Regions from separate parts of the Homo sapiens genome. Here region 2 is linked to region 1. The links come from fine-mapping of genetic effects on gene expression. Tissue or cell type: whole blood. Region 1 holds a variant in brackets; the other region holds the start of a gene. All regions are shown on one strand. Distances are between the middles of the regions. Region 1 overlaps LINC01872 (long intergenic non-protein coding RNA 1872). Region 2 holds the start of CD33 (CD33 molecule).

Region 1 (4,391 bases):
ATAGTGCTGAGGAAGGACCAGGCTGGAGCTCCTTGGACCCTGAGACTGGGAGGTAAATATGGAAAAAGAAGTGATAATTTAGGGGGAGGGAAAAGAGATCACCTGTGAAGAAAACTCACGCACACACCAGGGCCTGGAGAAGGAAGTGAGACTGGAAAGAGATCAGAATTTTATTTTTATTTCATTATTTTATTCATCTATTTAATTTGAGACAGTGTCTTGCTCTGTCACCCAGGCTGGAGTTCAGTGGCACAATCTCAGCTCACTGCAGCCTCGACCTCCCAGGCTCAAGCAGTCCTCCCACCTCAGCTTCCAGAGTAGCTGCACCCACAATGCCGGGCTAATTTTTTAAATTGTTTTGTAGAGACAGGGTGTCGCTGTGTTGCCCAGGCTGGTCTCAAACTTCTGGGCTCAAGCGATCCTCCCACCTCAGCCTCCCAAAGTGCTGGGATTACAGATGTGAGAGATCAGAGTTTTTGAATCTGAAGGACCCTTACATAGTCTGCAGTAACCCTCCCATTCTACCGAGGAGGAAAAAGAGGGGGAAGCAGAAAGGGGACAGAACTTGCCCAGAGCTATCCAACGAGTTACTGGCAAAGCCCCAGTTGGAACCAGCCCAGAGCTCTTCCCAACCTTTGATTCGAGGTTGTAAATTAAAGGAGGAGGAGGAAGGATTTTGATAGTGAAAAAAAAGCAAAAGTGGGTTATGATGCAGAGATAGGATTTGTTATCTGGAAGCCTGAGTAGCATCTTGATGTAAGGAGGGAGTCGTTTTTTTAAGAGAGGCAGCGATCAGAATGGAAAAGCAGAGGGCTGGTTCTTGAATCAAAACATCACTGAGAAAAGAGATGAGTCAAGAGCGGTCACAAATTAAATGCTGAGGGAACCAGGCAGGTGATGTGAATGATAAACAGTTGCCTAGCACTTATTTTGTGCTGGCCTCTGTTCTGAGGGTTTTACATGCATTCATTCATTTAATCATTTAATGCTCCCAACAATTCTGTCAGATGAATCCTGTTAAAATCTACATGTTATAAGTGAGGAAACGGGAAACCCAGAGAGGGGAAGTAATTTGCCCACAGTCACACAGCTGGCAAATGGTGGCGCCAGACTTAAACTCAGGCAGGCTGACTCAGCACACGGTCTTAACCACTGTGTTATATGCCCCTCCCAGGTGAGTGCAGCAGGGAGAGCAGGGGCAGCAATGGACTGGAGAACAATTGTCCAATATTAAAGGGGAAAGTTAATATCTGCCATGTGTTGTCAGATCTAATTTATTAAAAAGTAGCTGGGAGTTCAGACTTTTATGTGAGGATCCTGATTTTTAAACATTGCAACTAATGAAAGAAAGTCTGTATGCAGTTTTCTTAATGCAGGCTAAATAAAACCCCCTGCATTTTAACTACCTCACAAAGCCACTAATTTGCAAACTCTAGACTATCTTAAATGAGGAAGCAGTTCCCTAGTGAGGGAAGGGCCTGGCCCAGAAAAACCTAGAAAATGGGAGGCAAAGACCAAGCCTTTGGACTGCTGGCCGTCCACTCACAGAAGAATCTAGAACCCTTCCTTTGAACTGGCTTCACATCCAAGTTGTATGGGTTTCCTGTTGCTTTCATAAGAATTACCACAACTTGGCCGGGCGCGGTGGCTCACGCCTGTAATCCCAGCACTTTGGGAGGCCGAGGCGGGCGGATCACGAGGTCAGGAGATCGAGACCATCCCGGCTAAAAACGGTGAAACCCCGTCTCTACTAAAAATACAAAAAATTAGCCGGGCGTAGTGGCGGGCGCCTGTAGTCCCAGCTACTTGGGAGGCTGAGGCAGGAGAATGGCGTGAACCCGGGAGGCGGAGCTTGCAGTGAGCCGAGATCCCGCCACTGCACTCCAGCCTGGGCGACAGAGCGAGACTCCGTCTCAAAAAAAAAAAAAAGAATTACCACAACTT[T/C]AGCAGCTTTTTTGTTGTTTGTTTTGAGACCAAGTCTCACTGTGTCACCCAGACTGGAGTGCAGTGGTGCAATCTCGGCTCGCTGCAACCTCTGTCTCCTGGGTTCAAGCTATTCTCATTCCTCAGCCTCCCAAGTACCACCACACCTGGATAATTTTCTAAAAATATTTTTAGTAGAGACAGGGTTTTGCCATGTTGCCCAGGCTGGCCTGGAACTCCTGGCCTCATGTGATCCACCTGCCTTGGCCTTCCAAAGTGCTGGGATTATAGGCATGAGCCACTGGGCCCAGCCCAATTTTAGCAGCTTTTAAAGTAACACTCATGTATGATCTCACAGAAGGTCAAAAGTTCTGGTGTGGCGTGGTTCCCCTGGTTTTCTGCTCCAGCTTTCACAAGGCCTGAATCACAGTGTTGGCAGGGCTATGTTGCTTTCTCGAGTCCCTTTGGATGAACCCATTTCCAAACACATTCAGAATCAGTTCCATGCTTTGTAGTAGTGAGGTCTGCATTCCCTTGCTAGCTGTCTGCTGGGGTCATTGTCAGCTTCTAGGAGCTGCCCTCATGGGCTCGTGGGTTCGTTCCTTCATCTTCAAAGCAAACAATGGTGAGTCAAATCCTTCGTATGCTTCACATCTCTCTGACCTCCACTTCTGGCTCATGTATGCCCTTTCTTTCTCCTGAATCTCTCTGACTTTTCTGCTTTGCAAGTTTCACGTGATTACATTACATTCACTCAGATAGTGCAGGATGATCTCCTCAATTTAAGATCAGCAGATTAGTCACCTTCACTCTATCAGCAAAGTCCCTTCACTCAGTCAGCAAAGTCCCTTCACTGAAGCACGTAGATTAATGTTTAATTGAATAACCAGGGCACAGGAATCTTGGAATGGGAGACATCTTTAGAATTTTGCCTACCACACAAGTCGAGGGGGAAGACATTTGTAACTCATATGGTGCAAAACTATATGCTTTTCCCACTGTCTTTCTCAAACCTTGTGAGGTGGACAGGACAGTTTGATTTATTCCCATATTTTATACATGAAGCATGGGACTCAGAGAGGAGAAGAGGCTTCAACCGTGATGACACAGCAGTTCTGAAGGCAGCCTGGCATACCGGAAAGAACACTGGGTTCGGAGTCCAGGGACCTACATTATGACTTCAGGATGTCCATTTCTTGGCCCTGTGAACCTGACTAGTTCCTATGCTGTTCTGGGCCTCAGTTTCCTTATCTGCGAAGTGATGCATTGAGAACTACATCACAGTGCTGTTGTGAGATTGAGAATGATAAAGTATGTGAATCTCCAGTGCACAGCACATGGGCCACCATGATTGTTCGGTATTATTTATTTATTTATTTTAAGGTATCTGCAGAGCCACAGCTAGAACCCAGATTTATTTATTTATTTATTTATCTCTCTCTCTTTCTCTCCCTTTCTCTCTCTCTCTCTCTGTCTGTCTCCCAGGCTGGAATGCAGTGGCACAATCTCTGCTCACTGCAGCCTCTGCCTCCTGGGTTCAAGTGATTCTCATAACTCAGCCTCCTGAGCAGTTGGGACTACAGGCGCATGCCACCACGCCTGGCTAATTTTTGCTTTTTAAGTAGAGAAGGGATTTTGCCATGTTGGCTAGGCTGGTCTCGAACTCCTGGCCTCAAGTGAGCTGCCCGCCTTGGCCTCCCAAAGTGCTGGGATTACAGGTGTGAGTCCCCGCGCCTTGCCAAAACCCCAAATTTCTTGGTTCCAAATCTTCTTTCATTTGATAAAGCTTTATTATGCACCAGCTGTGTTCCAGATTGTGTGTTGGGTACTAGAGACACAAAAGTGACTCAGACTTGACTTTGAAAGGTGGACTCCATTATGTCACATAAAGGTACCTTGGGCATGACACACAAAGGCCACCCAGAAGTGGTACACAAAGGTGATTCCAACATGACACACAAAAGATATTTGGACATGACTAATTTTCTCAAGGAACTCACATTCTGGTCAGAATAGATACAGAGTTACTTCCCTGCGTACTGTGAAGGGGCAGAAGCTGACCAAGGAGAGAAAGAGAAACAGAGGGGAAGTAGGGTTAGGTAGTATTTCTAGCAGTCTGCCAAAATCTGTCAAATTTTGGAGTTTATTTTGACAGTAAAGTGAAGCCAACAGATGGTAACGAACAGGGAACTGACATGATTGATTTATAATTTAAAAGGATGCCATGCAGATGTGGAAATGTGAAGGGGCAATGGTGGAAATATCACTGGAACAATGGAGTAATGGAAATTCCACTGTCCTTCCTCAGCTGCAGAGCCCCCTGCAGAGTCTCCTTGTCATCTTCCTCCAAAAGTTTTCTAGGAGTCCCCAAGGAGTCTCCTATGTCTTCACAAACAGGCCCCATTCATCTGGTACCTGCAAGCATGGAAGCTTTACTTTTTTTTTATGGTGGGGATGGAGTCTTGCTC
Region 2 (4,391 bases), 49 kb before region 1:
AATTCATTAAAGAAACACAGTAAGACTCACATATTCATATTTGATCTTCTGGTCCATGAACATAGTATGACTTTATTGTTAAAACTAAATGTGGCTGGGCACAGTGCCTCATGCCCATAGTCAAAGCACTTTGGAGGTCGAGGTGGGAGGATTGCTTGAACCCAGGAGTTCAAGATCAGCCTGGGGGAACATAGCAAGACCCCATCTCTCCTAAACATAAAAACAAAAAGTTACTCCGGCCTGGTAGTATGAGCCTGTGATCCCAGCTACTAGAGAGGATGACGTGGGAGAGTCACTTGAGTCTGGGAGGTCAAGGCTGCAGTGAACTGTGGTCAGGCCGGTGCACTCCAGCCTGGGCAACAAAGCAAGACCCTGTCTTAAAAAAAAAAGCACTAAATGTATTGAATTTTCTATTACGTGCCACATGCTAAATATTTAAATAACTTACAACAGATATTATTTACTGGAGACTTAATTTGTTGTATATCAAATGAGGATGCAGCTACCTCTCTATTAGTAAGGATGAATGAAGAGTTATCTAGATACTATTGTGTGTAGAGATTTGACAAAGGTATGGTGGCAAGTACTAATATGTCCCAGGGATCAACGGTTTGCTGGATGCATACTACACAGAGTGATATGGAAAACCATGTAGCTGGACCTAAAGTTTAATTTTCTCTGTACACTCCACTCATGTTGTCTGGAAATATTATGTCTTTGGGCCATATTTAACTGTGAGAAGCAGATTTTTACATGAAAGAAAATGTTGATCCATATGATGAGCCTCTAAAAAAACTTGCTTCTGCCCACACTGAACCAAATGGCAGCATGAATGGAAAAGAAGTTTTTTCTGCACTGGTTCATAGAACATGTGTTCTCCCTTTTGTTTCACAGGAAGATGCTGCATGGTTCTTGTTTTGGAGATGTCATTGACACTGTGCAAATCAGTGTACTAGGTGCCAGGGGAAAATTCTATAGTCATATTTCTTTTAAAATTTCCAATATGCTACCATGATACATGGCAAATTCCCAACTTTTCACAGCTCTAAAGCCAGACAGCATGTGTGTGTGTGGTGAGGACATGAGGCTATGGATGGGGAGTATCTTAAGGGCAGGAATCAGGTCAGTGGCATCTCTTCTCAAGCCCCACCTATACACAAAGGCTCACTGTAAGAATTAAAGAAAGAGGAAAGAAACACGAATGGTGGCTCACCAGTCAAGACAGATTTTAGAGAAAACAAACCTGAGAGGAGTTTCTGGCCGAGTTAAGTCAGAGGCACACTCTCTTACAGACTAAGAGTTTTTAAGGATTTAGGGTGGGAGAGTTTATCAGAGACTTGGACTGCTTCTGAGTCTCTTTGTTGTGCTTATCTGGGAGAGAGAGGTGTGTGTCTGTACCCATACATCTTTCTGCAGCTACAGGCATACCCACTGAGTCTGCTTTTAGCTTCCCTATCTTAGTGCACCTGAAGGGAAAGGAATTTGCTTATTAAGGCCCACTGTTTTACTAGGGCCATTGTATGAGGGTGAAGTTTGGCAGTAACTCAAGAGACTCTCCCCCTACCTCCCTCTGTGCCCGAGCTGTCTTATCTGTGTTTCACTGTCTGCTCTTTCTGGTTGCTTGTAGTTAGCAGAGAAGTGATTTCCTTGAAATGCATGAGGCTAGAAAGGAAATTGGAACTTAAAGAGGCAGTGTTTCTCCGAGATGACGGTGCTCCTGCTCTGTCACTCACTATATCTTTAGTGAATGAATGAATAAATGAATGGCTGCCACCTTCACTTTACCTAGGACTCTTCTTTGTTTCTCTGCCCCAGACACTCACACGGACCCTATAGAATCCTATATCCTGCTGGACTAAACACCCCATGGATCTAGGTGAGGCTGCGACTCGGGCCAGGCCAGCAGTGATCAGCCCTGGTGTAAACAGTTGTGCACAGAAAAGCACCTCAGAGTGGAAGGACTTTAGACATGGGGTTCGCATGTCTCAGATGGCCCTGAAGGTACTGATCCAGGCTCTGGTGCTCCTGGAAGGCAAGACTCAGATTCTGCTCCATCTCCTCCCATCTCTGGGCGGGTCTCTGGCATCTCTGGCCCATGAGGGTCAATCTGTGTGGAGGGGACAAGCTCTGAGCATGTGTGGGTCTGAGGTTCCTCTTCCATGCAGGGCTGAGGTCTCCTGCTCCTCCCCAGCTTCCTGTCCGGCCCTGTAGTCCTTCCCCTCCACTCCCTTCCTCTTTTCTGCTCACACAGGAAGCCCTGGAAGCTGCTTCCTCAGACATGCCGCTGCTGCTACTGCTGCCCCTGCTGTGGGCAGGTGAGTGGCTGTGGGGAGAGGGGTTGTCGGGCTGGGCCGAGCTGACCCTCGTTTCCCCACAGGGGCCCTGGCTATGGATCCAAATTTCTGGCTGCAAGTGCAGGAGTCAGTGACGGTACAGGAGGGTTTGTGCGTCCTCGTGCCCTGCACTTTCTTCCATCCCATACCCTACTACGACAAGAACTCCCCAGTTCATGGTTACTGGTTCCGGGAAGGAGCCATTATATCCAGGGACTCTCCAGTGGCCACAAACAAGCTAGATCAAGAAGTACAGGAGGAGACTCAGGGCAGATTCCGCCTCCTTGGGGATCCCAGTAGGAACAACTGCTCCCTGAGCATCGTAGACGCCAGGAGGAGGGATAATGGTTCATACTTCTTTCGGATGGAGAGAGGAAGTACCAAATACAGTTACAAATCTCCCCAGCTCTCTGTGCATGTGACAGGTGAGGCACAGGCTTCAGAAGTGGCCGCAAGGGAAGTTCATGGGTACTGCAGGGCAGGGCTGGGATGGGACCCTGGTACTGGGAGGGGTTTAGGGGTAAAGCCTGTCGTGCTTAGCGGGGGAGCTTGACCAGAGGTTGATCTTCTCTCAGGCCCTCACCTGGACCCTCCCTCCTGATTCTGCATCCCCTCTTTCTCCTCACTAGACTTGACCCACAGGCCCAAAATCCTCATCCCTGGCACTCTAGAACCCGGCCACTCCAAAAACCTGACCTGCTCTGTGTCCTGGGCCTGTGAGCAGGGAACACCCCCGATCTTCTCCTGGTTGTCAGCTGCCCCCACCTCCCTGGGCCCCAGGACTACTCACTCCTCGGTGCTCATAATCACCCCACGGCCCCAGGACCACGGCACCAACCTGACCTGTCAGGTGAAGTTCGCTGGAGCTGGTGTGACTACGGAGAGAACCATCCAGCTCAACGTCACCTGTAAGTGCTGGGCCAGGATGCTGGGGTCCCTGAGGGTGTAGGGGAGACAGGATGGGCTGGTGCTGGGGACATTTAGTGTCCTGGAGGCCTGGCTGAGTTCGGGAGCCAGAAGGACATGAGCCCTGTCCCTTCTGCATTTCTGTGGTTTCTGGCAGGAGTAAGGGGAAATGCCTACCCTTATCTCATCTCTACCCCCAACTGAAGGAAATCCTCTCTTCCTCTCCTAGATGTTCCACAGAACCCAACAACTGGTATCTTTCCAGGAGATGGCTCAGGTAGGAAGGAGCCTCCCCGCCTGGGGCTGTTACTGACATTGAGTCTGTGTCAGGTTTGGTCAGATCTGGACTTTCAGAGTCAAATGTTCAGAGGCAAGGCCTGCAGTTAGACACGGGTAGACATCAGGCACCTTGGAAAAGGATATTTGGGGATGACTAGCAACTTCCCCCTTGCCCATCCAAATAATGCTCTTTGTCTCCCTCCTGTCTCTGAATGTCTTGGGGTATTTTATTTTTAATTGATATGTAATAATAGTACATATTTATGGATGGCATAGTGATGTTTCCATACTAATAATGTATAGTAATCAGATCAGGGTAATAGCATATCCATCATCTTGAACATTTATTATTTCATTGTTGTTGGGAACATTCAATATCCCCTTTCTAGCTATTTGAAGCTATCTATTATTGTTAAGCATAGTCATCCTACAGTGGTATAGAACACCAGAACTTATTCTTCCTTTCCAGGTGTAATCTAGTATCCTTTAACAAATCTCTCTCCTTATCATTGTTCCCCTAACCTTCCCAGCCCTTATTATTCTCTGTTCTACTTTTTACTTCTATGAAATCAACTTCTTGTAGCTTCCACTTATGAGTGAGAACATGTGGTATTCAACTTTCTGTTCCTAGCTTATTTCATTTAACATAATGTCCTCTAGTTCAATCTATGTTATAGTGAATAACAAGATTTCATTATTTTTTATGGCTGAATGATAATCCATTGTGTATATACGCCACATTTCCTTTATTTATTCATCTGTTGTTGGACACTTAGGTTTATTTCATATCTTCCTATTGTGGATAATGCTGCAATAAACATTGAGGTGCAGACGTTTCTTCAATATACTGATTTCCTTTCCTTTCTATAAATG

Evidence for each region. PIP is the estimated chance that this variant, and not a neighbour inherited with it, causes the effect. A credible set is the group of variants that fine-mapping cannot tell apart.
Region 2: it holds the start of CD33, and the variant in region 1 is the best candidate, but not a certain one, in a credible set for the expression of CD33 in whole blood (TOPMed, PIP 0.57).

Annotation. Positions count from the first base shown.
Region 1 is chr19:51,271,521-51,275,911 of GRCh38, forward strand. LINC01872 (long intergenic non-protein coding RNA 1872) reads left to right here. Exons shown (of 3, transcript NR_136526.1): 1 at 1-52. Among named protein-coding and RNA genes, the nearest start is that of LINC01872, 2.4 kb to the left of the region's middle. The variant T/C (reference allele first, on the strand shown) is at 1,945.
Region 2 is chr19:51,222,841-51,227,231 of GRCh38, forward strand. It overlaps CD33 (CD33 molecule), which reads left to right and starts at 2,240. Exons shown (of 7, transcript NM_001772.4): 1 at 2,240-2,315; 2 at 2,378-2,758; 3 at 2,963-3,241; 4 at 3,469-3,516. The coding sequence starts at 2,279. All of the region lies in intron 2 of LOC107985327 (a long non-coding RNA gene), which reads right to left.